5 separate regions of the Homo sapiens genome follow, and all the other regions are linked to region 5. Evidence: fine-mapped expression QTL. A gene starts in region 5. Each other region holds a variant in brackets. All regions are shown on one strand. Distances are between the middles of the regions. Region 1 overlaps PLA2G4C (phospholipase A2 group IVC). Region 2 overlaps LIG1 (DNA ligase 1). Region 3 overlaps ZSWIM9 (zinc finger SWIM-type containing 9). Region 4 overlaps LIG1 (DNA ligase 1). Region 5 holds the start of PLA2G4C (phospholipase A2 group IVC).

Region 1 (6,091 bases), 28 kb after region 5:
ATAATCCAGAGAGGAATGTTTCTGCCTCTGCTGCACAGAAGAGTTTGTGTAGGGAGTGGGGAGTGGCAGGTGGCAGTAAGCCCCACGCGGATCCCACACACTTGGCGAGGCAGATCCCCTCCCACCCTGTTCCACTGGCAGTGGTGAGCTAAGTTCCAGGCAGCCTGTGCTCAGAACTTGCAAATGCCCCCAAGTCATAAGCTTTCCCTGCAGAGATAGCAACCACTGCTCTCAGGCCATGCCCCTCCCCATCTATCCCACCTAGCCATGTGCCAGGGTCCTGCACACGTGTCTGCAGCTTGCTTTTCATTCACCCCATGTGGGTGGAGAAGTTCACCTCCACCCACAGTTATCTCATGAAACCCAGCTGGGGGCTTCTTTCAACCTGCGACCACCCACCTGAACTTTTTGGCTGACCACTGCAGGGTGCCCTGTGAGGAACAATAAGGAATGGCTTCCCTGGGTCCATACTGGGATCTGGGAGTGCATGCAGGGTTCTTCCCACAGCTCCTACTTATATTCCACGAACCTCCCCAAGTCATATCCTGCACTGAATAGGGTTAAGGCCTTACCCCAGAGACTGGACTTTCAGGCTCCCTGGTGTGGTGGGGGCGTGTGTCCTGCAAACAGTCTTTCCCCATCTCACACCCTGGGGACTCGCAGCCCTTCACTTGAGTCACAGTATAGGCTGCAGCCCGTCACTTCCTTCAAAGGGACTGTGGATTCCTTCAGATTTCCTGTCTAATTCCTGAATCACTTCTTGAAAAAAAAGTTCACAGTGTGAATCTCTACACAGTGTTTTGTCCTTCCAAGTGGGAGGGGTATGCCAGCAATGCCTCTAATCCAACATGTTTGCTGTCCTGCTCTTTCATAGTAGGACAGCTAGGACTTTCCAGAAGTGCCCCCATAAATCTGCATGGGCCAGAGCTTGACCTCCCTCTAGCTGCAAGGGAGGCTGGGAAATATTTGCCCTTCCTGCCTGTGGGCTGAGAAACGTTGGCATGGAAGGGAGCTTGAAATGGCCTTGGGGTAGCCAGTCTACAGTGCCCGGCTGGCTCCACCCATAGAAGGTTCCTGAGGACAAATCTGTCTTGTTTACTGCTCTATTCCAACAGTCAGAAGAGTGCCGGGTGCCCACTGATTGCTTCATAAATATTTATGGAATGGAAGAATGATCTTTCTTCCTGCTGCAGATCCCTGCAGTGCTTTATGCCAGTCTGCTGGTGCTTTGAATATCAAACATGACAGTCATGTGATGGAGAATGTTTGAATTTTATTGCTATTTTCTTGGCAGGTTTATGGAGAAGGGCTGTTGCTAATGCTAAAAGCATTGGACACCTTATTTTTGGTGAGTATTTGGGGAACAGAAAGGTCAAAGCCTAGAGATATTTTATGCAAGGAGATTCACAGTACTTTTCCTGCATGTGGCAGAAAAGAGGCCTGTGTATAATGGTTCTAACAACCACATTTCCTGACATTTATTCTCATACACTGAACATTGATTATGGGCAGCCAGGAAGACCACAGAGTGGATGAGAGTACAGACACCCTTGGAAGGAATGTTGCTGTGGTACATGTGAGCTTTGTGACCTCTGAAAAGTTACCTAACCTCTCTGTGCCTCAGTTTCTGCCTCTGTGCCATGTGGGTGATAATAATAGTAGTTATGAGGATTAAATGAGTTAATTCATCAAAAGCACATAGGACAGTGTCTGGTAGATAAAGGCACTCAGTAAACATTAGCAATCTGGCTGGATGCAGTGGCTGACACCCGTAATCGCAACACTTGGGAGGCTAAGGCGGGCGGATCATTTGAGGCCAGGAGTTCAGGTTTCTGATCCTGGCCAACAGGTGTGTGGAGCTGGTGCCTGCTACTTCCAGGCCTGGCTACAAAAGGCCTTCTGTGGCTCTCCAGCTCTCTCCTCTCATGGAACAGACAAGGAGACCTTGTGCCAAGAGGAGAAGCTCTTAAACCCAGGAGGCGGAGGTTGCAGTGAGCTGAGATCACACCATTGCACTCCAGCCTGGGCAACAAGATGCAAGCAGCCTGGCCCGGCGCAGTGGCTCATGCCTGTAATCCCAGCACTTTGGGAGGCCCAGGCGGACAGATCACTTGAGGTCAGGGGTTCGAGTGCAAGCTGGGTAACATGGTGAAAATGCGTCTCTACTAAAAATACAAAAATTAGCCAAGTATGGTGGTGCACGCCTGTGATCCCAGCTACTCAGGAGGTTGAGGCACAAGAATCGCTTGAAACCAGGAGGCAAAGGCTGCAGTGAGCTAAGATCACACCACTACAGTCCAGTCTGGGCAACAGAGCAAGACTCCATCACACACACACACACACACACACACACACACACACACACAAAATTGGCATTCGTTACCTGTTCATCATTTAACCCTTTGAATGACCTGAAGAAGTGGATGCTGTTGTCCCCTCCATTTTGCTGAGAGCCACCGGGTCATGGAAAGGATGCGTGACTCACCTATGTAACTGGTTGGTGAGTGCAGACACAGGGATCTATAGGGGAATCGTATGGTGGTTCTGATCCAAAGCCTGTCTGCCTGAATCCACATCCCAGCTCCACCTCTCATGCGTTAGTGACCCTAGAAAGCTGCTTAAATTCTCTGTGAAAAAAATTAAAAAATAAAGAAATGAGGGGCCGGGCGCAGTGGCTCACACCTGTAATCTCAGCACTTTGGGAGGCTGAGGTGGGCAGATCACCTGAGGTCAGGAGTTTGAGACCAGCCTGACCAACGTGGAGAAACCCCATCTCTACTAAAAATACAAAATTAGCCGGGCGTGGTGGTACATGCCTGTAATCCCAGCTACACGGGAAGCTGAGGCAGGAGAATCGCTTGAACCCAGGAGGTGGAGGTTGCAGTGAGCTGAGATCACACCATTGCACTCCAGCCTGGGCAACAAGAGTGAAACACAGTCTCAAAAAAAAAAAAAGAAAAAAGAAAAAGAAAAAGAAAAAAAAGAAATGAAACAAACAAAAAAAAAAAAAAAAAGAAAAGAAAATCAACAACAACAACAAAATTCTCTGTGACCCAATTTCTCCTTTGTAAAATGGATACAATAGTGCATAGCCCCAATCTTGTATATTTATATCAAATAAATGTAAATATACATCAAATATACAAGATTGGGACTATGTACTATTTGATGTGGGGTTTAAATGACCTCATGTATGTAAAGTACTTAGAGCAAAGCTTGACACATGGGAGTGTCCTCTTAAATGTCAATATTATTTTTATTATGTCTTGTATTGTTAGAAAAAGCAAGCCAGGGCCAGGCGCGGTGGCTCACGCCTGTAATCCCAGCACTTTGTGGGGGCCGAGGCGGGTGGATCACCAGGTCAGGAGATC[G/A]AGACCATCCTGGCTAACATGGTGAAACTCCGTCTCTACTAAAAAATACAAAAAATTAGCCGGGCGTAGTGGCGGGCGCCTGTAGTCCCAGCTACTCGGGAGGCTGAGGCAGGAGAATGGCGTGAACCTGGGAGGCAGAGTTTGCGGTGAGCCAAGATCGAGCCACTGCACTCCAGCCTGGGCGACAGAGCGAGACTCCGTCTCAAAAAAAAAAAAAAAAGAAAGAAAGAAAAAGCAAGCCGGGCACAGTGGCTCACGCCTGTAATCCCAGCACTTTGGGAGGTTGAGGTGGGTGGATCACTTGAGGTCAGGAGTCCGAGACCAGCCCAGCCAACATGGTGAAACCTCGTTTCTACTAAAAATATAAAAATTAACTGGGCATGGTGGCGGGCGCCTGTAACCCCAGCTACTCGGGAGGCTGAAGCAGGGGAATTGCTCGAACCCGGGAGGCAGGGGTTGCAGTGAGCCGAGATCGCACCACTATACTCCAGGCTGGGCAACAGATCGAGACTGTGTCTCAAAAAAAAAAAAAAAAAAAAGAAAGAAAGAAAGAAAAAGAAAAAAAAGCAGACAAAATTTATTTATTGACAATTCAAAAATTTGAAAAAGATGAAGCAGAAGCTTGACCTAACCGACGTGTATCAGGACTTAGCTTTCTATCGCATTTTCAGCACATGTGGAAAAATTGAATTTTGATTTGGTCTCAAGTAAAAAGTTATAACATGTACAATATTTTAATTATAAGGATCAACACTGCTACTATTAGGTAATAATATTTTTAAATATTAAGATTTTTTTGTTTTTTTTTGAATTTTTACTTCAATAGCTTTTGGGGTACAAGTGGTTTCTGTTACACGATGAATTATGTAGTAGTAAATTCTGAGACTGTAGTCCACCCATCAGTGTATGTTTTAGAGTATGTTGCATTCAATATGTAGTTTTTTGGTTTTGTTTTTTGTGACAGTCTCACTCTGTTGCCCAGGCTGGAGTGCAGTAGCAAGATCTCGTCTCACTGCAACCTCTGTATCCTGGGTTCAAGTGCTTCTCCTGCCTCAGCCTCCCTAGTAGGTGGAATTACAGGCACGTACCACCATGCCCGGCTAATTTTTATATTTTTAGTAGAGATGAGGTTTTGCCATGTTGGTCAGGCTGGTCTCGAACTTCTGAGCTCAAGCAATCTGCCCGCCTCAGCCTCCCAAAGTGCTGGGATTACAGGCATGAGCCACCACACCTGGCCCCAATGTGTAGTGTTTTTTTGTTTTTGTTCTTGTTTTTTGAGACGGAATTTCACTCTTGTTGCCCAGGCTGGAGTGCAATGGAGCGATCTCTGCTCACCGCAACCTCCACCTCCTGGGTTCAAGCCATTCTCCTGCCTCAACCTCCCGAGTAGCTGGGATTACAGGCATGCACCACCATGCCTGGCTAATTTTGTATTTTTTTAGTACAGACAGGGTTTCTCCATGTTGCTCAGACTGGTCTCGAACTCCTGACCTCAGGTGATCCACCTGCCTCGGCCTCCCAAAGTGCCGGGATTACAGGCATGACCCACCACTCCTGGCCCCAATGTGTAGTTTTTTATCCCCACCTCCCTACCCTCCTCTTTCTGAATCTCTGAAGTCCGTTATGCCACTCTGTATGCCTTTGCGTACCCATAGCTTAGCTCCCACTTATAAGTGAGAACATATGGTTTTTGGTTTTACATTCCTGAGTTACTTTACTTAGAATGATGGCCTCCATCCAAGTTTCTGCAAAAGACATTATTTTATTCTTTTTTATGGCTGAGTCATATTCCATGGTGTTTATATACCACATATTCTGTATCCACTCATTTGTCAATGGGCACTTAGGTGGGTTCATATCTTTTTTTTTTTTTGAGACAGTCTCACTCTGTCACCCAAGCTGGAGTGCAGTGGCGCGATCTCGGCTCACCGCAAGCTCCGCCTCCCAGGTTCACGCCATTCTCCTGGCCCAGCCTCCTGAGTAGCTGGGACTACAGGCACCCACCACTGCGCCCAGCTAATTTTTTTTTTTTTTTTTTTTTTGTATTTTTAGTAGAGACCGGTGTTAGCCAGGATAGTCTCGATCTCCTGACCTCATGATCCACCCGCCTCAGCCTCCCAAAGTGCTGGGATTACAGGCATGAGCCACCATGCTCGGCTGGTTCCATATCTTTCAATTGTGAATTGTGCTGCTATAAACATACATGTGCATGTGTCTTTTTTTTTTTTTTTTGAGGCAGAGTCTCGCTCTGTTGCCCAGGCTGGAATGCAGTGGTGCAATCTCACTGCAACCTCCAACTCGTGGGTTCAAGTGATTCTCCTGCCTCAGCCTCCCAAGTAGCTGGGACTACAGATGTGCACCACCGCATCCAGCTAATTTTTGTATTTTTAGTAGAGATGGGGTTTCACCATGTTGGCCAGGCTGGTCTTGAACGCCTGACCTCGAGTGATCTCCCCTCCTCAGCCTCCCAAAGTGTTGGGATTACAGGCGTGAGCCACTGCACCCAGCCCACAAGTGTCTTTTTCATATAATGGCTGCCTTTCCTTTGGGTAGATACCCAGTAGTGGGATTGCTGGATCGAACGGTAGATCTACTTTTAGTTCTCTGAGGACTCTCCATACTGTTTTCCATAGAGGTTGTACTAATTTACATTCCCACCAGCAGTGTGTGAGTGTTCCATTTGCACCGCATCCACACCAACGTCTATGGTTTTTTTTGAA
Region 2 (4,279 bases), 42 kb before region 5:
ATTTCAGACAAGAAGGGCACGTGCAGAGGCCTCGAGATGGGAACAGCATGGGATGTTTGGGGCCTCTCATCTACTTCCTTGTTTCTGGAGAATCGGATGCGACCTGGGAAGCAGGGAGAGTTTGAGGATAGCACGTGGTGAGAGGTGAGCTAGAGAGGAGAGTGGGGGCTGGATCTCAAAAGGTCTTGCACTCCCAGCTAAGGAGCCTGGGCTTCGTGCTGTGGGTCCTGGGAGCCATGGAAGGGCTGTGAGGTGGGGAGGCAGGTTCATCCCTGAATGAAAGGTGGCCATAAGGAAGTCACAGTGTGGCTGAGGGCATGCTGGGAGCTCCAGGTGGACGCTGAGGTTGGCCCTGGGGGTGTGTCAGGGGATCTTGTTCAGAGGGAGCAACATTGAGCTATGTCCCAAACCTCACATGCTGAGGCCTGGAGGGGTGACACAGCTTGGTGTGTCTGGAAACACCCCAGTTTAGCAGTGATATAAAAGAAGGTGGAGTATGTGGTGTGGGAAGGGTTAGAAGGTCAGATGGAGAGAGATTAGGTAGGATCGGGGTAGACATCAAAAGACTTTATCCTGGATAAAGCAGAGAATGTGGAGTCATGGAAGGGTTTTGAGCAGGGAGAGACAGTGCCAGCCATGCTGATAGAAGGTCCCTCTGGGGCCACGTGAAGGAGCCACTGGGGGCCGGGAGACCGGGGACCAGGTGGCGCAATGGCCAACATGAGATATAACAGTGAAGATGGGTACAACTGCCTTTGTGTGAGCTCTTCATCATGGGTTAGTATCTGAGTTTAGAGGCTTTTAGAAGCAGGTTCTGAAGCTCTGAAACAGGGATTCAAGTGCAAGTGGTTTGTTTAGGAGGTGCAGGGAACAGAGGGTGATTCAGGACAGGGGAGCAGCCAACACAGGATGTGCTGTTGGGTCTGCTATGTGTTGGGCAGCTGGAGCTTAGTTTTGTGGGATTCTCTGGGGAACGGTGTAAATGCTCCAGAGTGACCCCCGAGATGCGAGGCAGCTGGGGTATTTATACACCAACTCCTGCCGATCGTGGGGTGAGGGCCTCTCCTGGGGCTAGTTTATTCCCTGCCACTTCCAGACTTCTGAGGTTCCGGGGAAGCTGTCTGGAACACTTGGAGGCAGTTAAGATCTGAGGGGAGCAGTGGGGAGCTCAGGGGACCTGCTGGAATCGGTACTGTGCCAAGTACATTACATCATTGTTTACTCGTGGGGATTATTTCTATTCTGCAGTCGTGAGAGAGCAAAGCACAGAGAAATTAAGTAACCTGCCCAAGGTCACACAGCCAGGAAGCAGGAGGGATTGAAGGGTGCGGCCTGCACTGGGGCAGTGACTGTGTGCAGGCAGAGAAGGGGAGAGGGCCCAGAGCCTTCCAGAGGCTACATCAGTGGGTGTGAGCTCTCCGGGATGGGAGCACACGAGCCAGCGAGGTCAGATACACCAAGCCCTTTGCCTCCCCAGCTCGGAAGCAGCTCCCGAAACGGACCATTCAGGAAGTCCTGGAAGAGCAGAGTGAGGACGAGGACAGAGAAGCCAAGAGGAAGAAGGAGGAGGAAGGTGAGCCCCCAGAAGGAGAGAAGTGTGTGTGTGTGTGTGTGTGTGTGTGTGAAGCCAAGAGGAAGGAGGAGGAGGAAGGTGAGCCCCCAGAAGGAGAGGTGTGTGTGTGTGTGTGTGTGTGTGTGTGTGTGTGAAGCCAAGAGGAAGGAGGAGGAGGAAGGTGAGCCCCCAGAAGGAGAGGTGTGTGTGTGTGTGTGTGTGTGTGTGTGTGTGTGTGTGTGTGTGTGTGTGTGTTTTGGATCTGCAAGG[G/T]CAGGGGCCTGAGAGCTCAGGATGTTTGGACCCTGCCGATTTGATGCCTGTGTCCAGGCATCCAGGAATTCCACCTACCAATATGGGAACTTTTGTTCTGAAAACATTGTGGGATATATTTGTTTGGACATCTTAATTTAGTAATAATTCAGGCACAGTTTCCCATTTTTATTTGCTATTTTTATATTTATTTAATGGAAACTATTTTTCCTCTAAATGATTTCCTTTTCCTTGTAAATTTTACCATAAAGTTGCAGTTCCCAAACATTCTTAGTTCACAGCACCCTTGATGTCTTAGTAATTTTTTTATGATGCTCCTAGGCCAATACCTTATCAGTTCTATTAAGTAGTTATGTCCAAACAACTATTAGATACTATACATACATTGGAAAAAAAGTAATATTTGTGCTTTTTTTTTTTTTTTTTTTTTGAGACAGTCTCACTGTGTCGCTCAGGCTACAGTGCAGTGGCACAGTTTGGGCTCACTGCAGTCTCCACCTCCCAGGCTCAAGCGATTCTCCCACCTCAGCTTCCCGAGTAGCTGGGATTACAGACACACCACCACGCCCAGCTAATTTTTGTATTTTTAGTAGAGACAGGGTTTCACTATGTTGACCAAGCTGGTCTCGAACTCCTGAGCTCACATGATCTGCCCACCTCGGCCTCACAAAGCCCTGGGATTACAGGCGTGAGCCACTGCGCCCAGCCTGTATTTTGTTCTTAAATAACCATAATTACTTGTGGGAAATGCCTTGGATACTCTGTAACATCTTAAACAGTGGAATTCAATTGAAAACTGCCAACGTCATTTCCTGTTCTATGTTGATTTTTGTACAGTACTTGATTTTTATAGCAGCAACCTATGAAAACCCAGCTTTGCAGAGATGCAATGTCATTGCAAGGAATGTGATTTAATACTGAAAACTGAAATACCTCGAACTAGTAGTTCACACACTGGCCAGCAGGTGTCGCTGGGTTTCCTTTGAAAAATCTAAAATATCTTGCAGCGCCCAGTGAGTTCCCTGCATGTTGGTGAACCCACCGAAAACAGCCATAAAGATCTGATCGATTGATCATCTGGGGCCTGCATGAGATTACACCAATTGCAGCCTTTAACGTCATTTGGTTTTTTGTTTCTGCAAACAAATAAAAGGTCCATTTTCCAGGGCAGATTTAAATTTGGTTAAGATCTGATTTCTTGGCCAGGTGCAGTGGCTCACGCCTGTACTCCCAGCAGTTTGGGAGGCCGAAGCGGGTGGATCACTTGAGGTCGGGAGTTGGAGACCAGCCTGGCCAACATGGTGAAACCCCATCCCTACCAAAATTATAAAAATTAGCTGGGTATGGTGGCATGCGCCTGTAGTCCCAGCTACTCAGGAGGCTGAGGCATGAGAATCCCTTGAAACTGGGAGGTGGAGGTTGCAGTGAGCCGAGATTGTGCCACTGCACTCTAGCCTGGGCGACAGAGGGAGACTGTGTCTCAAAAAAAAAAGATTTGATTTCTTATTGACAATTTTTAGTACAAATTTTATTGTAAACTACACTTTTAGCCACTGTCAGTGTCCAGTGAGGGGTGGCGGGGGTGGCCTCTTTCTACTAAGGCAGATTTTTCCCAAGTTGGTTTTTGTAGTTTGTATTGTGACCCTAGAGGTAAGATTTTTTTTTTAACTTTGAAGATTTTTATTTTTGTCTATAACAGGCTGTCATTTGCATTTTTAACCCTTTCAGATTCTATTTTGGGGTGAATAACACTAAAGGAATCATTGGTAAGGAAAGACACACCATTTATGTCTCGGCTACATAGGCAAACGGGCTGGACCCCCTCAAGGTCGCTGCCTTGCTTGGGGTTGACAAGGAGCAGGGTCTTACGTGGCCCACTGCTTTACAGGCACATTGGATTGGCACAAGATAGAACTGTAAGACCTGCACTTTGGGAGGCCAAGGCGGGTGGCTCACCTGAGGTCAGTAGTTCAAGACCAGCCTGGCCAACATGGTGAAATCCCATCTCTACTAAAAATACAAAAAAATAGCTGGATGTGGTGGTGGGCGCCTGTCATCCCAGCTACTCGGGAGGCTGAGGCAGGAGAATCGCATGAACCCAGGAGGCAGAGGTTGCAGTGAGCCAAGATCACACCATTGCACTCCAGCCTGGGCGGTAAGAACGAAACTCTGTCTCAAAAAAAAGAACAGATGACAGATGAGGGCAGACTGTCTCCAGAGTCAAAATGCCCTTGTAGGTTCAATGGGATTTTTTTGCCATCTGACCGTTCTGTCTATCGTCAGAAGAGGAGACCCCGAAAGAAAGCCTCACAGAGGCTGAAGTGGCCACAGAGAAGGAAGGAGAAGACGGGGACCAGCCCACCACGCCTCCCAAGCCCCTAAAGACCTCCAGTGAGTTTCTGGTCCTCTCCTCCGCCCTGCCCCACCTCCTGATTTTGGGGTCAGAAGTCTTTGGAG
Region 3 (6,091 bases), 72 kb before region 5:
GTGAGCCAACAGCGTGCCACTGCACTCCAGCCTGGGTGACAGGAGTGAAACCCTGTCTCAAAGAACAAACAAACAAACAAACAAAAACAGCGTGTACACTAGGCTGCCCTGCTTGCTGGGGGTGGGGGGTGGCGGGGCAGAAAGAGGAAATAAAGTTAAAAATTAAAGTTAAACATACAGACATGCAAATTGACCTGTATATGTGCAGAGCTGCGCTGTCCAATCCAGAAGCCACTAGCTACATTAGGTTGTTTACATTTCGATAAATTAAATGACAAATTCAGTTCCTCAGTCATACTGGCCTCATTAAGCATTCTGTAGCCATGTGTGGCCAGTGGCCTCTGGATTGGACAGTACAGATAAGAACCATTTTCTTTCTTTTTATTTTTTTAGACAAGAGTGTCACTCTGTTACCTAGGCCAGAGTACAGTGGCATAATCTCAGCTCACTGCAACCTCTGCCTCCTGGGTTCAAGCGATTCTTGTGCCTCAGCCTCCCGAGTAGCTGAGATTACAGGCACCTGCCACCATGCCTGGCTAATTTTGAATTTTTAGTAGAGATCAGGTTTTGCCATGTTGGCCATGCTGGTCTCGAACTCCTGCCATCAGGTGATCCATCTGCCTCAGAGTCCCAAAGTGCTGGGATTACAGGTGTGAGTAACCATGCCTAGCCTGGATAAGGAACATTTCTATCATTGTAGAAAGTTCCACCGGGCAGTGCTGGTCCATAGGATAGAAAGCGAGATATGATTTATAAGCTGCTAATAACTCTGCAGGGGAGGGGACCTGGGGGACAGGATGTGATAAGACTTTTCACCACATACCTTTTTTAGAACCATGTGAATGTATGACATATTCAAAAAGTAAATATTTAAATGTTGCTTCACTAATCTGTCTCTCCTGTCCTAGAACTTCTTCCTCCTTTCTTTCAAGAGCATTAAGGGGCTGGGCACGGTGGCTCATGCCTGTAATCCCAGCACTTTGGGAGGCCAAGGCGGGGGGATCACCTGAGGTCAGGAGTTCAAGACCAGCCTGACCAACATGGAGAAACCCCGTCTCTTCTAAAAACACAAAAATTAGCATGGTGGCGCATGCCTGTAATCCCAGCTACTCAGGAGGCTGAGGCAGGAGAATCGTTTGAACCCGGGAGGCGGAGGTTGCGGTGAGCCAAGATTCCGCCATTGCACTCCAGCCTGGGTGACAAGAGCGAAACTCCGTCTCAAAAAAAAAAAAAAAAAAAGTATGAAAGCAGGTCAAAACACAGACGCAGGAGCCAACCGTGGTTTAGCCGAGATTCCAAGACAGCCTTCAAAATGAAAAGACAACTCCCCTTCCAGGGAAGGCTCTGATCTATGAATGAGCTGTTCTGCACAGGGACAATCCTGCAGAGGGTGGGTTCAGGGAAGAACAGCTGAGGCTTATTTATGTCATGGTGGGTAGTGGAGGAGAGTTACTAGATCAGCAAAGACCAGTGGAGTAGGAAGTGCATGTGTGTTTGTCCCCATGGTGAAGGTCATGGGTCTGGATCCAGGCTGTGTGGGTCCGAAGCCCAGCTCTGTCACTAAATAGCTGTGTGACTTTGAGCCAGTTACTTGACTTCTCTGTGCTTCAGTTTCCTTGTCTGTAAAATGGGGATGAGAATGGTGGACTATTTCCTCATAGGGCTCAGGTGAGATGAAAATGAGTTATAGTATGTAAAGCACTTAGGGTAGTGCCTGGCATATAGTAAGTGCTTGATAAACATTAGCTAAAATTATTATTATGTCGGGACAGAGGCCTGGGCTTGGGCTGGTGGCTTGAATCAGGGCTTCTTACTGGGCATGAGATGAAGACAGGAAGAGTGTGCCAGAGCTGAATCTCGACTTTACCCTGCCTTGGGACCTCTTCCACACACAAGGGAGACAAAGGCACAGCCAGGAGGAGAAACCAGTTCTTCCCCTACTTTCTCATCTTTCTTTCCTCTTTAAACTTCAAGTTCACCCCAAACTTGAAGTTGGATTAAAGCCGCAGAGATTCCTTATGGAGCAGCAGCCATCCTCACTGTTCCTCCAACACAAGCTTGCTCGTGCCTCTGGGCCTTTGCACTGGCTGTTCCTTCTGCCTAGAATTCTCTTCCCTCTGATGACAGAATGAGGGTCCCTTGCCTCTGTTCCATCTCCTCTGCTTCACCATCATTTGCTAAAGAGACCTTCCCTGACCAATTCAAACAGCACCCTTAGAACTGTCCCGCTCCAGGCCCCGGCCTTTTTCTCCTTGATGATAACTTATCGCTCCATCACATTACAGGACATAGCACTCTTCCTTCTCCTAATTCTCCATCTGCATGGTGGGTTCAGGTGTGTTCTCCCCTTGAGAACATTCATCAAACTAAGTATTTATCATTTGTGCATTTTCTGTTTGTGCAGTTCAATTAAAAAAAAAAAAATTTAAGTAGGCCTGGCGTGGTGGCTCATGCCTGTAATCCCAGCACTTTGGGAGGCCGAAGCAGGACTGCTTCAGTCTGGGAGTTCAAGACTAGCCTGGGCAACATAGGGAGACCCCCCCCCGCCAAACATCTCTACAAAAACTAAAAAATTAGCTGGGTGTGGTGGTGCACGCCTGTTGTCCCAGCTGCTCGGGAGAATGAGGTGGGAGGATTGCTTGAGCCTGGGACATCGAGGGTGCAGTGAGCCATGACTGCACCACTGCACTCAGCCTGGGTGACAGTGAGATCCTGTCTCAAAAAAAAAAAAGATTAAAAAAAAAAAACTTACATAGCATTTGTCATCACTGTGGCTCCCCTTCTTGCTAGCACCCAGCCAGCCCCTAGTGATGTTACATCATATTTGGACATGTTTGTCAGTTGTTGGTTTTTCCCGCCAGAACTGCAGGGGCGTTCTGGCAGTTACCTCTGCAAGGCAGCCAATAGCCATAGGTGGCTATTTAAATTTCAATTAATTAGAATAAATTCAGGCCGGGCGTGGTGGCTCTCGCCTGTAATCCTAGCACTTTGGGAGGCCGAGGCGGGCGGATCACAAGGTCAGGAGATCGAGACCATCCTGGCTAACATGGTGAAACCCCGTCTCTACTAAAAATACAAAAAAATTAGCCGGCGTGGTGGCACGCCCTGTAGTCCCAGGTACTCGGAAGGCTGAGACAGGAGAATCGCTTGAACCCGGGAGGCGGAGGTTGCAGTGAACCCAGATCGCACCACTGCACTCCAGCCTGGGTGATAGAGCACTCCAGCCTGGGTGACAGA[G/T]TGAGACTCCGTCTCAAAAAAATTAATTAATTAATTAATTAATTCAGTTCCTCAGTGTACTGGACACATTTCAAGTGCTCAGTAGCCACTTGTGGCTGGGGGTGCAGAATCACAGAACGTTTCCATCCTGGAAGAAAGTTCTACTGGGCAGCACTACCCTAGAAGGTAAGCTCTCTGCGGACAGAGACCACGTGGGTCTGGTTTGCTGCTGCATCCCCAATGCCTCGGTAAGTACTTATTGAATGAATGAACGGATGAATGGAGGAAAGGAGTGAAGGGATGAGAGGGCGGATGAAGGCATGAATGACCCACGAGTCTTCAGCGCGGCTTTCCCCCGCCCCCTCCCCCGGCCTGCCTCTCTCGAGACCCCACCTTGGCCTCGGGGTCGGTGCGGAAGAGGCCCTCGAGCACGTGCAGGGCGTCCAGGACGCCGTGGTCGCGGCCCTTGCAGTAGGACAGCAGGCGGCGCACGTCGGCTGGGGCCACGAACTGCTTGGAGATCTTGTTGGTGGTGCGCACCGGCAGGCAGGCGTTGGCCAGCAGGTGGCCCGGGCGGAAGTAGTAGGCGAACTCCAGCGGGCAGGCCGGGTGTGAGTGGGTCAGCTGGCACTCCGTCACCACGAGGCGGTCCCGCAGCGGGCTCAGCTTGACGATGATGAAGGCGGGGCAGCCGGGCTGGGGAGGCCTGTGGGAGGAACCACCACCGCCCTGGTCACATCACTCTGCTGCCCTCTTCTTCCTTTCCACTCACCTTTTTTTTTTTTTTAAACTAAGAATTGTTTCAGGCATAGAGAAGAGTAGAGGGCCCTAAGAATATGCCAGCTGTGTGACCTGGGGCAAGTCACTTCAAGTCTCTATGCCTCAGTTTCCTCATAGGTTACAAGGAAGGTCCTACTCATCATACCTTCCTCATAGGATCGTCATGAGCATGAAAAGAGTTAATATAGGTAAAGCACCTACACAGTGTCTGGAATATGGCAAGCAGTAAGTGTTCACTAAAATTCTATACCTACCACCCTTAGTTCTGTCAAAAGTGAGTGAATGTTTTATTGTATTTACCTTAACTTTTTTTAGAAATAAAAAATTTCAGATAGTCCTGTATCTGCTTCTGGTTTAGCAATAACATCAAAAGTTGAGGCCTTCTGTGAACGCTGCCCTAACAGATTATCTTCCTTCCCTCTGTCCCCAGAGGCAGCCACTATCAAAATTATCTATTAGCATTCCATGTATATTTTTATGCACCCATAAACAATGGGAGGTATGTTTCTGTGTGTTAAAAGCATTGTATACGTGAAAAAGGACTCAAACTCATTAGTCATCAAAGACATAACAAATTAAAACCCTAAGGAAATGCCACTACACATCAGCAGAATGGTCAAACAAAAGAGACTGATAACATCAAGTGTTGATGAGGACGTGGAGCAACTGGAACTCTCACCCATCACTGATGGGAACGTGAAATGGCACAAGCACTTTGGAAAACTTCATGGCAGTATCTACTAAAGCAAATTTTATGTCTCTCCTGTGACCCAGTGGTGCCACTCAAGACAAATGGGCATCTAAAGCTGTGTACGAGAATGTTCATAGCAGCACTATGTGTATTCGCCAAATACTTGAAACCTAAATATCCAACAATAGAGTGAGAAAATAAGTTGTGGTATATTCCTAAAATAAAACACTAATCAGCACCAAGAATGAACACACCATTACAACCTCCAACAACACGGATGAATCTCACAAACCTACCAAGTGAAAGAAGCCAGACATGAAAGAGAAACTGATATAATTCCCATTTATATAAAGTTCAACAGCAGGCAAAGTTAACCTCTATCGTTAGGAGGCTAGATAGTGGTTACCCTTAAGTGGTTAACCCTGTGAGGGGGCACCAGGAGGTTTCTTGGGACTGGACATATTCTGTTTCTTGTTCTGGGTGCTGGTTACCTCTGATTTTTTTTTTGGGAAAATTCATTCAGTTTCACACATATGATGTGTGTACTTTTCTGGATGTGTGTTACATTTTTTAAAAGTCTACTTCGAAAAAACTTTGTTTTTGGCCAGGCATGGTGGCTCACGCCTGTAATCCCAGCACTTTGGGAGGCTGAGGGGGGACGGATCACCTGAGATCAGGAGTTTGAGACCAGCCTGGCCAACATGGTGAAACCCTGTCTCTACTAAAAAAATATATATATATATATATTAGCCAGGCGTGCTGGCTAATAATAGGCTAATGGGATTACACCTGTAATTCCAGCTACTTGGGAGGCTGAGGAAGGAGAATGGCTTTAACCCGGGAGGCAGAGATTGCAGTGAGCCGAGATCGCACTACTGCACTCCAGCCTGGGGTGACAGAGCGAGACCCTGTCTCAAAGCAAAAAAAAAAAAAAAGAAAAAAGAAAAAAAGAAAAAGAAAACTCTTTGTTTCCGAGCATTGCGGTAGCAAGAATCATGGTTCCCCAAAATATTCACATCATAGTCACTGAAACTGTGCATATGCTGCCTTCCATGGCAAGAGGACCTTTGCGGGTGTGATGAAATTAAGGGTCTTGAGATGGGGAGAGTCTGGATTACCCAGGTAGGCCCAAATGTCATCACAAAGGTTCTTATAAGGGAAAGAGGGAAGTAAGAGGATCAAAGTCAGAGAGAGATTGAAAGATGCTACCTTCTAGCTTTAAAGATGGAGGAAGAGCCAGGCACAGTGGCACTTGCTTATAGTCCCAGTTACTCAGGAGGCTGAGCTGGGAGGATCATTTGAGTTCAGCCTGGGCAACATAGTGAGACTAGTGAGACCCCTACCTCTCAAAAAAAAAAAAAAAATTGGAAGAATGGCCTGGCGCGGTGGCTCATGCCTGTAATC
Region 4 (6,091 bases), 52 kb before region 5:
CCAGCGGGTACAATTTTATAAGCTTCCACAGTTGTTTCACGGAATTATGTCATCACCTTAAAACAATTTTTCACTAACCTTTAAACTTAACTCCAAAAAAACCCATTTCAGGTCCTCAGTCTATTCCTCATATTAGATGAAAAACAGTCTTCTTATGGTAAAGGAGGCCTCTTATCTTTTTCTCTGATTTGGAGCTTTTATTCTGCACCAGTAAATCTCACCAGCAAATTATTTTGGTTCATAAAAACAGGAGTTTCTTTTTGAAGGGGAAATTCATGTTTCTGTTTTTTTTTTTCTTTCTTTCTTAAAGAAAGGGTTTTATGTGTGTTTAGATCTCTGCACAACCAATCACCTCAACAAGTGTTTGGATTTCTGTTCCAGGAGCAGCTGACAGACGAAGAAAAGTGCTGGACAGGAAGGGAGAATTCTGACGCCAACATGCAGCGAAGTATCATGTGAGCACCCTCCCTTGCCCCTGAGTCTTTCCTTCTCCAAGTCCTCTGTTTCTTTCTCTAAATCTGTACTTAAAAAAACAAACAAACAAACAAAAACTCTTACGTTAGATTTTGAGTTGGAATTTCCAGGAGTCAAGTAGTATGGAAAATGAGCCGTGGGATATGGAAGACAGTGTATTGAACAACAGTTTTTAGTTGCAAGGAGCAGAAACCCTAACGCAGTGGTTCTCAGTCAGCAGCAATTTTGCTCCCCAGGGAACATCTGGCAGCGTCTGGAGATTTTTTTTTTTTGAGTTGGAGTCTTGCTCTGTCACCCAGGCTGGAGTACAGTGGCGCAATCTCGGCTCACTGCAACCTCCGCCTCATGAGTTCAAGTGATTCTCCTGCCTCAGCCTCCTGAGTAGCTGGGATTATAGGCACGTGCCACCACGCCTGGCTAATTTTTGTATTTTTAGTAGAGACGGGGTTTCACCACGTTGGTCAGGCTGGTCTCAAACTCCTGACCTCGTGATCCGCCCACCTCGGCCTCCCAGAGTGCTGGGATTTCAGGCGTGAGCCACGGCGCCCGGCCAGTGTCTGGAGATATTTTTGGTTGTTACAACCTAGGGACAGAGGGTTTGCCATTGGCATCTAGTGGCTAAAAGCCAGGCATGCTGCTAAACATCCTTCAATTCATAGGACAGCCCCCCCAACAACACAGAACCATCAGGCCCAACATGTCAATAGTGTCTAGGTTGAGAAACCTCGTGTTAATGCAGTCCGGCTTCAGGAAGACAAGAAAGGGCATGACTTGACTTATATCATTGAAACCTGCTGGAGTAAACAGCCTCAGGCTTGGTTCGATCCAGTTGCCAAAACTTCCTCCCTGGGAATCTGTCTCTCTCCATTGTTCAGCTCTACTGTCCTTGAGGTTGTCCTCACCCTCAGGCGGGCTCTCCCCTCTTAGCGGTCCCCTTGGAAAGAGGGTGTTAGAGCCCAGTTTCACTGGCCCAGCCTGGGCCACATACCTATCCCTGAACCAGCCACAGGGATGCAGCCTGGATCACGTGTCCACCCCTGGTCACAGGCAAAAGGGCCAGCCCACTCAAATCGTGTGTACTGAGAGAATGTGGGGTAAGAAGCATCCCAAGAGGAAAACGGAGGGGCTGTTACCAGGAGGAAAAAATGGATGGTAGAGAGACCCAGACAAGGGCATCCATCCCAGAAACCTGGGCGGTAGTGGCTTACACAAATGCTGGGTTCCGTTTTTCTCCCGTGATGAGGAATCTGGGGATTGTCTCTCCAGGGCTGATGGTGCCTTCGATTGCTTTCTGTCCACTGGCTTTTGCATGATTTTTCCTTTTCTTTTTGAAGATTAAATAAACCTCTTATTCTGGAATAATTTTAGAGGTACAGGAAAGTTGCAAAGACAGTACAGAGAGGTCCTGTATACCCTTGGCCAGTTTCCATTGTCAATATCATACATTACTATGATCCGTTTCTCACCACTGAGATACTAATGTCAGTACATTACTCTTAACTGAACTCCATACTTTATTATTCAGATTTCACCAGATTTTTTTTTTAATGTTCACGCCTTCCAACATTTTTTTTTTTTTTTTTTTTGAGACAGAGTCTTGCTCTGTCGCCCAGGCTGGAGTGCAGTGGCGCGATCTTGGCTCACTGTAAGCTCTGCCTCCCAGGTTCAGGCCATTCCCCTGCCTCAGCCTCCTGAGTAGCTGGGACTACAGGCGCCTGCCACCACACCCAGCTAATTTTTTTTGTATTTTTAGTAGAAGCAGGGTTTCACCGTGTTAGCCAGGATGGTCTTGATCTCCTGACCTCGTGATCCGCCCACCTCGGCCTCCCAAAGTGTTGGGATTACAGGTGTGAGCCACCATGCCAGGCCCCAACATTTTATATTTAGTTGTTTGCTTAATATTTCTGCCCTTCACCAGAGTGTTAGCTTCTTGAAGGCAGGAACTTCGTGTGTCTGGGTCACTGCCAAACCCCTCAGGCCCAGAACAGGCCCTGGCACATAATAAGTGCTTAGGTAGGCCGGGCGCAGTGGCTCACACCTGTAATCCCAGCACTTTGGGAGGCAGGAGGATCACCTGAGATCAGGAGTTCGAGACCAGCCTGACCAACATGGTGAAACCCCTTCTCTACTAAATGAAAAAAATTAGCCGGGCGTGGTGGCGGCCACCTGTAATCTCAGCTACTCAGGAGGCTGAGGCAGGAGAAACACTTGAAACTGGGAGGCCGAGGTTGCAGTGAGCCGAGATTGCACCATTGCACTCCACCCTTGGGCAACAAGAGTGAAAACTCCATCTCAAAAAAAAAAATTTTTTTAGGCTGGGCGCGGGGGCACATGCCTGTAATCCCAACACTTTGGGAGGCCAGGGTGGGTGGATCACCTAAGGTCAGGAGTTTGAGACTGGCCTGGCCAACATGGAGAAAACCCGTGTCTACCAAAAATACAAAAAAAATTAGCTGGGCGTTGTGGTGGGCACCTGTAATCCCAGCTACTCGGGAGGCTGAGGCAGGAGAATCGCTTGAACCTGGGAGGCAGAAGTTGCAGTGAGCCGAGATCACACCATTGCACTCTAGCCTGGGCAACAGAGCGAGAGTCTGTCTAAAAAAAAAAGATTTAAAAAGTGCATAGTTAATATTTGTTGAATAAAACTTGGGATGTATCATATCTTGCAGGTGCGTTAGGGCAGAAAAATTAGTGTTGCCTCCTTTGTCTGAGTCTGAGTTTCCTTATCAGTTAAGTTAAAGGGCTTATTTGAAATTCTCTGTTATGTGCTGAGATGGAAATGGTGTTAGAAGTTATAGGATGCGGCCGGGCGCGGTGGCTTATGCCTGTAATCCCAGCACATTGGGAGGCCAAGCAGATCACAAGGTCAGGAGATCGAGACCATCCTGGCTAACACGGTGA[T/A]ACCCCATCTCTACTAAAAATACAAAAAATTAGCTGGGCATGGTGGCGGGTGCCTGTAGTTCCAGCTACTTGGGAGGCTGAGGCAGGAGAATGGCATGCACCCAGGAGGCGGAGCTTGCAGTGAGCTGAGATTGCGCCATTGCACTCCAGCCTGGGCTACAGAGCGAGACTCTGTCTCAAAAAAAAAAAAAAAAAAGGAAGTTATAGGATACAGCATAGATAGGCAGGGTATTGGTGCTGTTATTCTCCTTTTTTTACCCCCTTTTATGCTCCTCTAGGTCATTTTTCCACCCCAAGAAAGAGGGTAAAGCAAAGAAGCCTGAGAAGGAGGCATCCAATAGCAGCAGAGAGACGGAGCCCCCTCCAAAGTATGTCACAGGGCTGGGATATGGTGAATTTTTTCCTTTAGCAGTCAGGATTGTCTTGGTTGCAAGTGTTCAAACCTAATGCAAAATGTCTTGGGGCCCAAAAAACTTTTTCAGCCAGGTGGCCAGAAGTCCAAGAGCAAGAGCAGCTGCAGGCACAGCTGGATCCAGGGCCTCGGAGTTGTCTGTACGTCTCTGTTTCTGCAGGTCTTGGCCTCGTTCTAGAACCAGACATTCTCCATAATGCAGAGAAGCTGGCCGCTGGCCACTGGCCACGTCTTGATGCTGTCTCATCTAAGTAGAAGACAACAGTACTCTTTTTTTTTTGAAATGGAGTCTCACTCTCACCCAGGCTGGAGTGCAATGGTGTGATCTCGGCCCACTGCACTCCAGCCTGGGCGACAGAGCAAGATTCCATCTCAAAAAAAAAAAAAAAAAGGCATCCCAATAGATGCTGGAGACCAATGGCAACCTTAGGCAGGGACTCCATTTGCTCCTCAGCATCACCCATCACAGGGCAGGCACTCTGGAGACTTCCAGAGATGTGTGATGGGTGGGTGAGTGGATGAGTGGGCGGGTGGATTAATGCACTGATGGATGAAATGATGAGATTTGCTGAGGAGACAACCAGAAAATGTTCATTGGATGCTTGAAAGGAAGGGAAGGAAACAGCAAAGAAACCAAAGTGTTTGCGGGCAGTGCCCCCACTCTGCCTGCTGTAGTCGCCCCTTTACACCCCCATTTCCCCACCTTCCAGGGCGGCACTGAAGGAGTGGAATGGAGTGGTGTCCGAGAGTGACTCTCCGGTGAAGAGGCCAGGGAGGAAGGCGGCCCGGGTCCTGGGCAGCGAAGGGGAAGAGGAGGATGAAGCCCTTAGCCCTGCTAAAGGCCAGGTAGGTCCCCATCACCCTGCCCATTTTTACCAGAAGAAACTAATTCCCATTAACCTTTGGAACAGAGTGCAGCAGCTGTTCAGGAGAATTCTGGAGAAATTGCCCGGGAGAGGTAGATGTGTTTCCTGGTTGTGTCGGGGGCAGACACAACCTGGTCCTAATTGCCCCTGCCCTAGGACCTCGGGTGGGCTCCTTCACCACGTTAGGTCTTGGATGCCTCAACTGTAACATGCAGCTCCTGGTAACACCTTCCTCATAGGGTGACTGGGAAGATGAAATGAGTCGATTTACATACAGATCTGAGAATAATGCCTGATGGTAAAACAAGGGCTCAAGGCCCAGCACAATGGCTTACGTCTGTAATCCCAGCACGTTGGGAGGCCAACGTGGGAGGATCACTTGAGGCCAGGAGTTCGAGACCAGGCTGGGCAACATAGCGAGACCCCATCTCTACAAAAAAATGTTTTAAAAATTAGCCAGGTGTGGTGGTGCATGCCTGTGGTGCTATCTCCTTGAGAGGCTGAGGCAGGAGGATCGCTTGAGCCCGGGTGTTCAAGGCTGCAGTGAACTGTGATTGTACCACTGTACTCCAGCCGGGGTGACAGAGCAAGACCTTGCTTCAAAAAAAAAAAAGCAAAAAAATAAGGGTTCAAAAGTATATCTAGCCTCTCCTGTGGTCAGAGGGCTTTTTAACTTCTCCAAATACATTGGACCACTCTCTTCCCCTGTTTAAGTCATTTAATGCTTGTTCATTGCTTTGTGGATGATGTCCAAAGCGTGGTGCTGCTTATTCTGTCAGTGGTGAGGTCAGGTCCTGTGACTCCCTGCCCAAACCCCCTGGTATTACCACCACAGGCCAAAGCCAGGCCTTGTGGAAACCTCCCAGGCCCCTCCTGCTGCTCCTCTCTTCCCCCGCCCATCACATCTGCAGCCGCATCCACAGCTCCTCCTCAGCTCGCTCCATCCTGGCTTCCCACACCCACCAGGTGCACTTCCACCTCTGGGCCACTACCTTCTTTCCCAGCCTAAAACTCTCTTTCCCAGATACACGCCTGGCTCAGTCCCCTGCTTTCTTCCATGCTTTGCTCAGATATCACTTCCTCAGCGAAACTTTCCTCACCACCTATGTTAGCTTCCCATTTGCTGCCATAACAATTGACCACAAACGCAGTGGCTTAAAACAGTGTCAGTTTATTGTCTTACAGTTTGGGAGTCGTGAGTCTCAAATGGGTTGCACTGGGCTAAACTCAAGGTGTCAGCAGGTCTGCGTTCATTTCTGGGGGCTCTGGGGGAGAATCCAGGAATTGCCTTTTCCAGCTGCTAGAGATCCCCTTTTCTCCGTTTTCAAAGCAAGTGGCTGGGTGTGGTGGCTCACGCCTGTAATCCCAGCACTTTGGGAGGCCGAGGCAGGCAGATCACAAGGTCCGGAGATTGAGACCATCCTGGCTAACATGGTGA
Region 5 (6,091 bases):
ATGGCAAAACCCCGTCTCTACTAAAAATACAAAAATTAGCTGGGCATGGTGGCGCGTGCCTGTAATCCCAGCTACTAGTGGGGTGAGGCAGGAGGATCACTTGAATCTGGGAGACAGGTTGCAGTGACCCGAGATCGTGCCACTGCATTCCAGCCTGGGCGACAGAGCGAGACTCCATCTCAAAAAAAAAAAAAAAATAGGTCACATCAAAGGTTTCAGCGATTAAGACCTGGATATCTATGGGGGCTGTTATTATTGCAGCCACCCCACATGGGATGATATGTTAGAGGAAAACCATCGGGAAATGGTCAGACAAGGCAAGCAGGATGCCTGGAACACCCACCCAGCCCTGGGCACCACGGGGCTGGCTTGGGGAAAACGGCTGCACGCGGAGCGGGGCCCAGGCTCGGGTCTTCCAGAGCAGGAGGCCTCTAACCCCGGGGCCCAGCGTGGAACAGGAGCTTCCGGGCATGAGAGTGTCAGGGTGTCCTGATACTCCCGCAGGGGGGACACAGGGCTCCCAGCTGTCCCCTGCCCCTCACACTCTGTTTCTGCCTCTCACATCTGCCCTCCCTCCTTCCCTTCTCTCTCATCAGGTTCCTCTGCCCTTGTCTCCCACCCGCCCTCTCTCCCCTTCCTTCTCTATCTGCGAGGCTTTGCTCTCTGCCGTGCAAGTCTGTGCCAGGCTTACTTTGCTGTCTGTCACTGTGACTCAGCCTCCCTGTCTCTCTTCCTGTGTCTCCATCATGGTCTCTTGTGCACACAATCTCTTGGGCATTCTGTTTCTATTTGTTGTAGCCCAAGAAGACAACATTGCCTTCCGAGTCTCCTTGGGGCTAGCAGTGGCCCTGTAGCCCTGTGTGGGCAGACCCAGGGGACATAAGCACAGGGGCTGCTGGGGACTTCTGGAGAAACATCTTTCCTGACCAAAAAGGACAGCCCTGGTTGTGGCAGCTCCTCCCCTCCTCCTGCCTTGACTAGAGATGATGGCTGGAGCCAAGTCACCACCTTGTAATGATGAGGAAAAAGAGTAACAAACTCTCCTGACGACCCTAAACCGGCGAACCTAGGGCAGCAGCTGCCTAACTGTGGGCTTTTGTTCATGGGAGTAGGGGAAGAATAAGCCCCAGGGCGATTATGCCACTCTAAAACATGGCTTTCAGCCGGGCACAGTGGCTCATGCCTGTCATCCCAGCACTTCGGGAGGCCGAGGCGGGCAGATCACCTGAGGTCGGGAGTTCAAGACCAGCCTGACCAACATGGAGAAACCCCGTCTCCACTAAAAATACAAAATTAGCCGGGCGTAGTGGCACATGCCTGTTACTCCCAGCTACTCAGGAGGTTGAGGCAGGAGAATCGCTTGAACCCGGGAGGAGGAGGTTGCAGTGAGCCGAGATCGAGCCATTGCACTCCAGCCTGGGCAACAAGAGCAAAACTCCGTCTCAAAAAAAAAAAAAAAAAAAAAAAAGACTTGTTTCTCATAGCTAAGAGTTCCTGATACAGCTCTGCCTTAAAGAACTGGCAAATTAGTGTGCATTTGTGTTTCAATTTCAAATAAAATGTTTAAGGCAAAAAAAAAAAGTAAATGTTGTATGTCAGGGGATCCCCACATTACTGGCTTTGTGTGGAGACCATGGTTCCTTTGGGCTTGGCTCTTCCTCCCTGCACCAGTGCAGGGCCCCAGGAACACATCTGCCACACACGGCCGCCATGTCCCTCTGCTGAAGCTAGTCAGGGTCATCCTCACTCCTCAGTGACCCTCATGATGGCTCCACCAGGTAGGTACTTTTATTCTCCCCATTTAACAGGTGAGGACACTGAGGGGCACAGGGATGTAAGTTACCTTCCCTAGGTCCACTATCTAGGAAGTGGTGGGCCAGGGTTTGGTCCATGCTGTCAGCTCCTTGACCCTGCATCTATAACTACTAACTATACTGTGGAGAGCCTCATGAGCTCCTGCGAGGTGTAGAACCTTATCCCGCAGGCGGGGCAGTGGCATGGTCAGGTCTAGGAGTGAAAAGATCCTGCGATGGTTGGAGTTGCGGGCACTGAAGAGGTGAGCCTGGCGTTAGGGGGAGCAGGGGAGACCATCTTCCCCCTGGTGAAATCCTGTTCTAAAATTGGTGATACTCCTGCCTTGGCCTCCCAAAGTGCTAGGATTATGGCCTCATATCTATTTTTAAAAAATAAGAATTCAAGCTGGGTGCGGTGGCTCGCAACTGTAATCCCAGCACTTTGGGAAGCCGAGGCAGGTGGATCACTTGAGTTCAGCAGTTCGAGCCAGCCTGGCCAACATGGTGAAACCCTGTCTCTACTAAAAATACAAAAATAATTAGCCGGGCGTGGTGGCAGATGCCTATGTTCCCAGCTACTCGGGAGGCTGAGGTAGGAGAATCGCTTGAACCCAGGAGACGGAGGTTGCAGTGAGCCGAGATTGCACCACTGCACACCAGCCTGGGCGACAAAGAGTAAGACTCCATCTCAAAAAAAAAAAAAAAAAATTCAAAACCCATCGAGTTGGGATGACGCTTAGTGCTGGGCTTCAGGAAGAGTAGGCAGGAGGGTAGTATGGGAGGTTTCTAGGAGCCACTCTTGGAAGCGGTGCTCCCCACAGATGCCCGATTGCACTGACTGGAACTCGGTCACATGACCACATAACTCGCTCACATGACCACACCTAGCTGCAAAGGTGCTGGGAAATGTGGTACCCTGTTGGGAGGCCACTTCTGGGCTTCAAACCTTCACTGTGAATGGAGCTCACAGGTTTTCTAAAAATGGACATTAAATGAACCAGAGTTGGCCCTAAGGATCTGGCTCACTGCAACCTCCACCTCCCAGGATGAAGCACCTGCCTCAGCCTCCCGAGTAGTAGCTGGGATTACAGGCACACGCCACCATACCGAGCTAATTTTTGTATTTTTAGTAGAGAAGGTGTTTCACCATGTTGGCCAGGCTGGTCTCGAACTCCTGACTTCACATGATCCGCCTGCCTCAGCCTCCCAAAGTGCTAGGATTACAGGCGTAAGCCACCACGCCTGGCCTCAATATTTCTTTTTCTGGGTATTTGAGTATGATATTATATATGATGGTTATTAGACAGCCAGATGCATAGGAGGATTAGCTAATCTGTTTTGAGGAATACTTATCTCCAATATAGTTATATAACGACAACATTCTTTTTTTGAATACTGGTCTCGGGTGCCTAATGACAGAAGGGTGACATCACTAAGGAAGCCTGGAAAGTCCCAGCCCTCCACGTGATCCCACGGATGAAAATAGCTCCGGGTGAGCTCTGGAACAGCTGAAAAAGCTGGAGCAACCAAGCAGGGCCTACAAGCCGAGGAGGGCTGTTTAAAGGCGCAGGGGCCATTTTACCTCCAGGTTGGCCCTGCTCAGGACCAGGAGGAAACACCTCCAGCCCGCGACCTCCTCCCACAGGGGGAAAAGGAAAGCAGGAGGACCACAGAAGCTTTGGCACCGAGGATCCCCGCAGTCTTCACCCGCGGAGATTCCGGCTGAAGGAGCTGTCCAGCGACTACACCGCTAAGCGCAGGGAGCCCAAGCCTCCGCACCGGATTCCGGAGCACAAGCTCCACCGCGCATGCGCACACGCCCCAGACCCAGGCTCAGGCAAGCCGTGGGGGCAGGGAGGGCTGTTTCATCCCGCTGGGGCGGCCATAACCAAGTACCAGGGATTGGGTGCAATTAAATAACAGGATTTCTTTTTCTTTTTTATTTTATTTTATTTTATTTATTTATTTATTTTTTTTTGAGACAGCATCTCGCTCTGTCGCCTAGGCTGGAGTGCAGTGACGCGATCTCGGCTCACGGCAAGCTCCGCCTCCGGGGTTCAAGCGATTCTCCTGCCTCAACCTCCCGAGTAGCTGGGATTACAGGCGCACACCACCACACCCGGCTAATTTTTGTATTTTTAGTAGAGATGGGGTTTCACCATGTTGGCCAGGCTGGTCTCAAACTCCTGAACTCGTGATCCACCCCACTCGGCCTTCCAAAGTGCTGGGATTACAGGCGTGAGCCACCGCGCCCGGCTAGGAATTTATTTTCTAACACTTCTGGAAGCTAGAAGTCCAAGATCAAGGTGTTGGCAGGGTTGGTTTCTCCTGAAGCCTCTTGCAGAGGCCCTAATCTCTCCTTATAAAACCAATCAGGCTGGGCGCGGTGGCTCACGCCTGTAATCCCAGCCCTTTGGGAAGACGAGGCGGGCGGATCCTGAGGTCAGGAGATCGAGATCATCCTGGCTAACACAGTGAAACCCCGTCTCAACTAAAAATACAAAAAATTAGCTGGGCGTGGTGGCGGGCGCCTGTAGTCCCAGCTACTCCGGAGGCTGAGGCAGGAGAATGGCGTGAGCCCGGAAGGCGGAGCTTGCAGTGAGCCGAGACTGCGCCACTGCACTCCAGCCTAGGGCACAAAGCGAGACTCCATCTCAAAAAAAAATAAAATAAAATAAACCAATCAAACCAAATTCCAGGCCACCCTCAGGACCCCACTTTAACTTAGTCACCCCTTTAAGAGCCTATGTCTGGCCGAGTGCGATGACTCATGCCTATAATCCCAGCGTTTTGGGAAGCCAAGGTGGAAAGCTCTCTTGAGCCTAGGAGTTCAAGACCAGCCTGGGTGACATAACAAGACCTGATCTCTACAAAACATAAAAAATTTAGCTGGAGATGGTAGCATGTACCTGCACTTCCAGCTACTCGGGAGGCTGAGGTGAGAGGCTCGCTTGAGCCCAGGAGGCTGAGGCTGCAGTGAGCCACGATCACACCACTGCACTCCAGCCTGGGTGACAAAGCAAGACCCTGTCTCAAAAAGCAAACAACGAAAAAGAATCCTATGTCCAAATACAGTCACATTCTGAGGTTCTGGGGGTTACAAGTCCAACATATGAATTTGGAGGTGGTGGGGGGAAGCTGATTAATTTCATAAGGGGGGTCTTGAAACTGCCTTCGCAGAAATGTAAGTAATGAGAGAAAGCTAACATGACTGACCATCTTGTTTCTAACCTCACAGGCTAGATTTTTTTTTCTTATTCTAGTGCAGAGGCCAAAATTACCATGAGAGGAATTTAATTCATAGTTAAACTTTGAGACAAAGAAAACTGACCCCCAGTCCTTGTTGAGAGATTGAAGCCACATTCATTTACTTTTTATTTATTTATTTAGTTTTGAGACAGAGTTTCACTCTTGTTGCCCAGACTGGAGTGCAATGGCATGATCTCTGCTCACTGGCACCTCCACCTCCTGAGTTCAAGTGATTCTCCTCCCTCAGCCTCCTGAGTAGCTGGGATTACAGGCGCCCGCCATCATGCCCAGGTGACTTTTGTACTTTTAGTAGAGATAAGGTTTCACCATGTTGGCCAGGCTGGTCTCCAACTCCTGACCTCAAGTGATCCTCCCACCTCGGCCTCTTAAGGTGCTGGGATTACAGCCATGAGCCACTGTGCCTGGCCTGAAGTCACATTCATAAGACAAGGTTAGAATCATGAAGGTGCTGGAACTTTGCTAAAGAACAGTCGTGGGTTGAAGAATGACCTGCCATCCCTTAGCTTCCTTTTCTATATGTGCTCCAGAGTCACGTAACCAGGGGTCGCATGATTTATAACTTCCCCAGCTACTTCTATAAATAATATCACTGTCGTGAAACACAGAACTCAGCTTTTTAGTGGGGTGTGGTAGCTAACACCTGTAATCCCCACTTCTTGGGAGGCTGAGGCAGGAGGATTGCATGAGCCCGGGAGAATGAGACCAGCCTGGGCAACATAGTGAGACCTCAATCTCTACAAAAAAATTAAAACTTTGCCAGACGTGGTGGTGCATGCCTGTAGTCCCAGCAACCCAGGAGGCCAAGGCAGGAGGATTGCTTGAGCCCAAGAGTTGGAGGCTGCAGTGAGCTATGATTGCGCCACTGTAGGGACCAGCCCTGCAGGGTCTGTGGGTCTTTCTCCCCATGTGCGGAGACGAGAGATCGTAGAAATAAAAACACAAGACAAAGAGATAGAAGAAAAGACAGCTGGGCCTGGGGGACCACTACCACCAAGACGCAGAGACCGATAGTGGCCCCAAATGCCTGG

Evidence for each region. PIP is the estimated chance that this variant, and not a neighbour inherited with it, causes the effect. A credible set is the group of variants that fine-mapping cannot tell apart.
Region 1: its variant is the best candidate, but not a certain one, in a credible set for the expression of PLA2G4C in caudate (GTEx, PIP 0.61).
Region 2: its variant is the best candidate, but not a certain one, in a credible set for the expression of PLA2G4C in tibial nerve (GTEx, PIP 0.52).
Region 3: its variant is the best candidate, but not a certain one, in a credible set for the expression of PLA2G4C in monocytes (Quach 2016, PIP 0.90).
Region 4: its variant is the best candidate, but not a certain one, in a credible set for the expression of PLA2G4C in whole blood (INTERVAL, PIP 0.52).

What each region holds. Positions count from the first base shown.
Region 1 is chr19:48,080,316-48,086,406 of GRCh38, reverse strand. PLA2G4C (phospholipase A2 group IVC) reads left to right here. Exons shown (of 17, transcript NM_003706.3): 10 at 1,295-1,348. Among named protein-coding and RNA genes, the nearest start is that of PLA2G4C-AS1, 22 kb to the right of the region's middle. The variant G/A (reference allele first, on the strand shown) is at 3,372.
Region 2 is chr19:48,151,166-48,155,444 of GRCh38, reverse strand. LIG1 (DNA ligase 1) reads left to right here. Exons shown (of 28, transcript NM_000234.3): 6 at 1,478-1,573; 7 at 4,106-4,213. LIG1-AS1 (LIG1 antisense RNA 1) reads right to left here. Exons shown (of 3, transcript XR_007067281.1): 3 at 20-103. Among named protein-coding and RNA genes, the nearest start is that of LIG1-AS1, 7.4 kb to the right of the region's middle. The variant G/T (reference allele first, on the strand shown) is at 1,823.
Region 3 is chr19:48,180,286-48,186,376 of GRCh38, reverse strand. ZSWIM9 (zinc finger SWIM-type containing 9) reads right to left here. Exons shown (of 4, transcript NM_199341.4): 3 at 3,610-3,922. Among named protein-coding and RNA genes, the nearest start is that of ZSWIM9, 13 kb to the right of the region's middle. The variant G/T (reference allele first, on the strand shown) is at 3,238.
Region 4 is chr19:48,159,914-48,166,004 of GRCh38, reverse strand. It overlaps LIG1 (DNA ligase 1), which reads left to right. Exons shown (of 28, transcript NM_000234.3): 2 at 382-455; 3 at 3,654-3,743; 4 at 4,498-4,633. The coding sequence starts at 439. Among named protein-coding and RNA genes, the nearest start is that of LIG1, 7.4 kb to the left of the region's middle. The variant T/A (reference allele first, on the strand shown) is at 3,376.
Region 5 is chr19:48,108,026-48,114,116 of GRCh38, reverse strand. It overlaps PLA2G4C (phospholipase A2 group IVC), which reads left to right and starts at 3,300. Exons shown (of 17, transcript NM_003706.3): 1 at 3,300-3,630. RefSeq lists an enhancer at 3,325-3,484.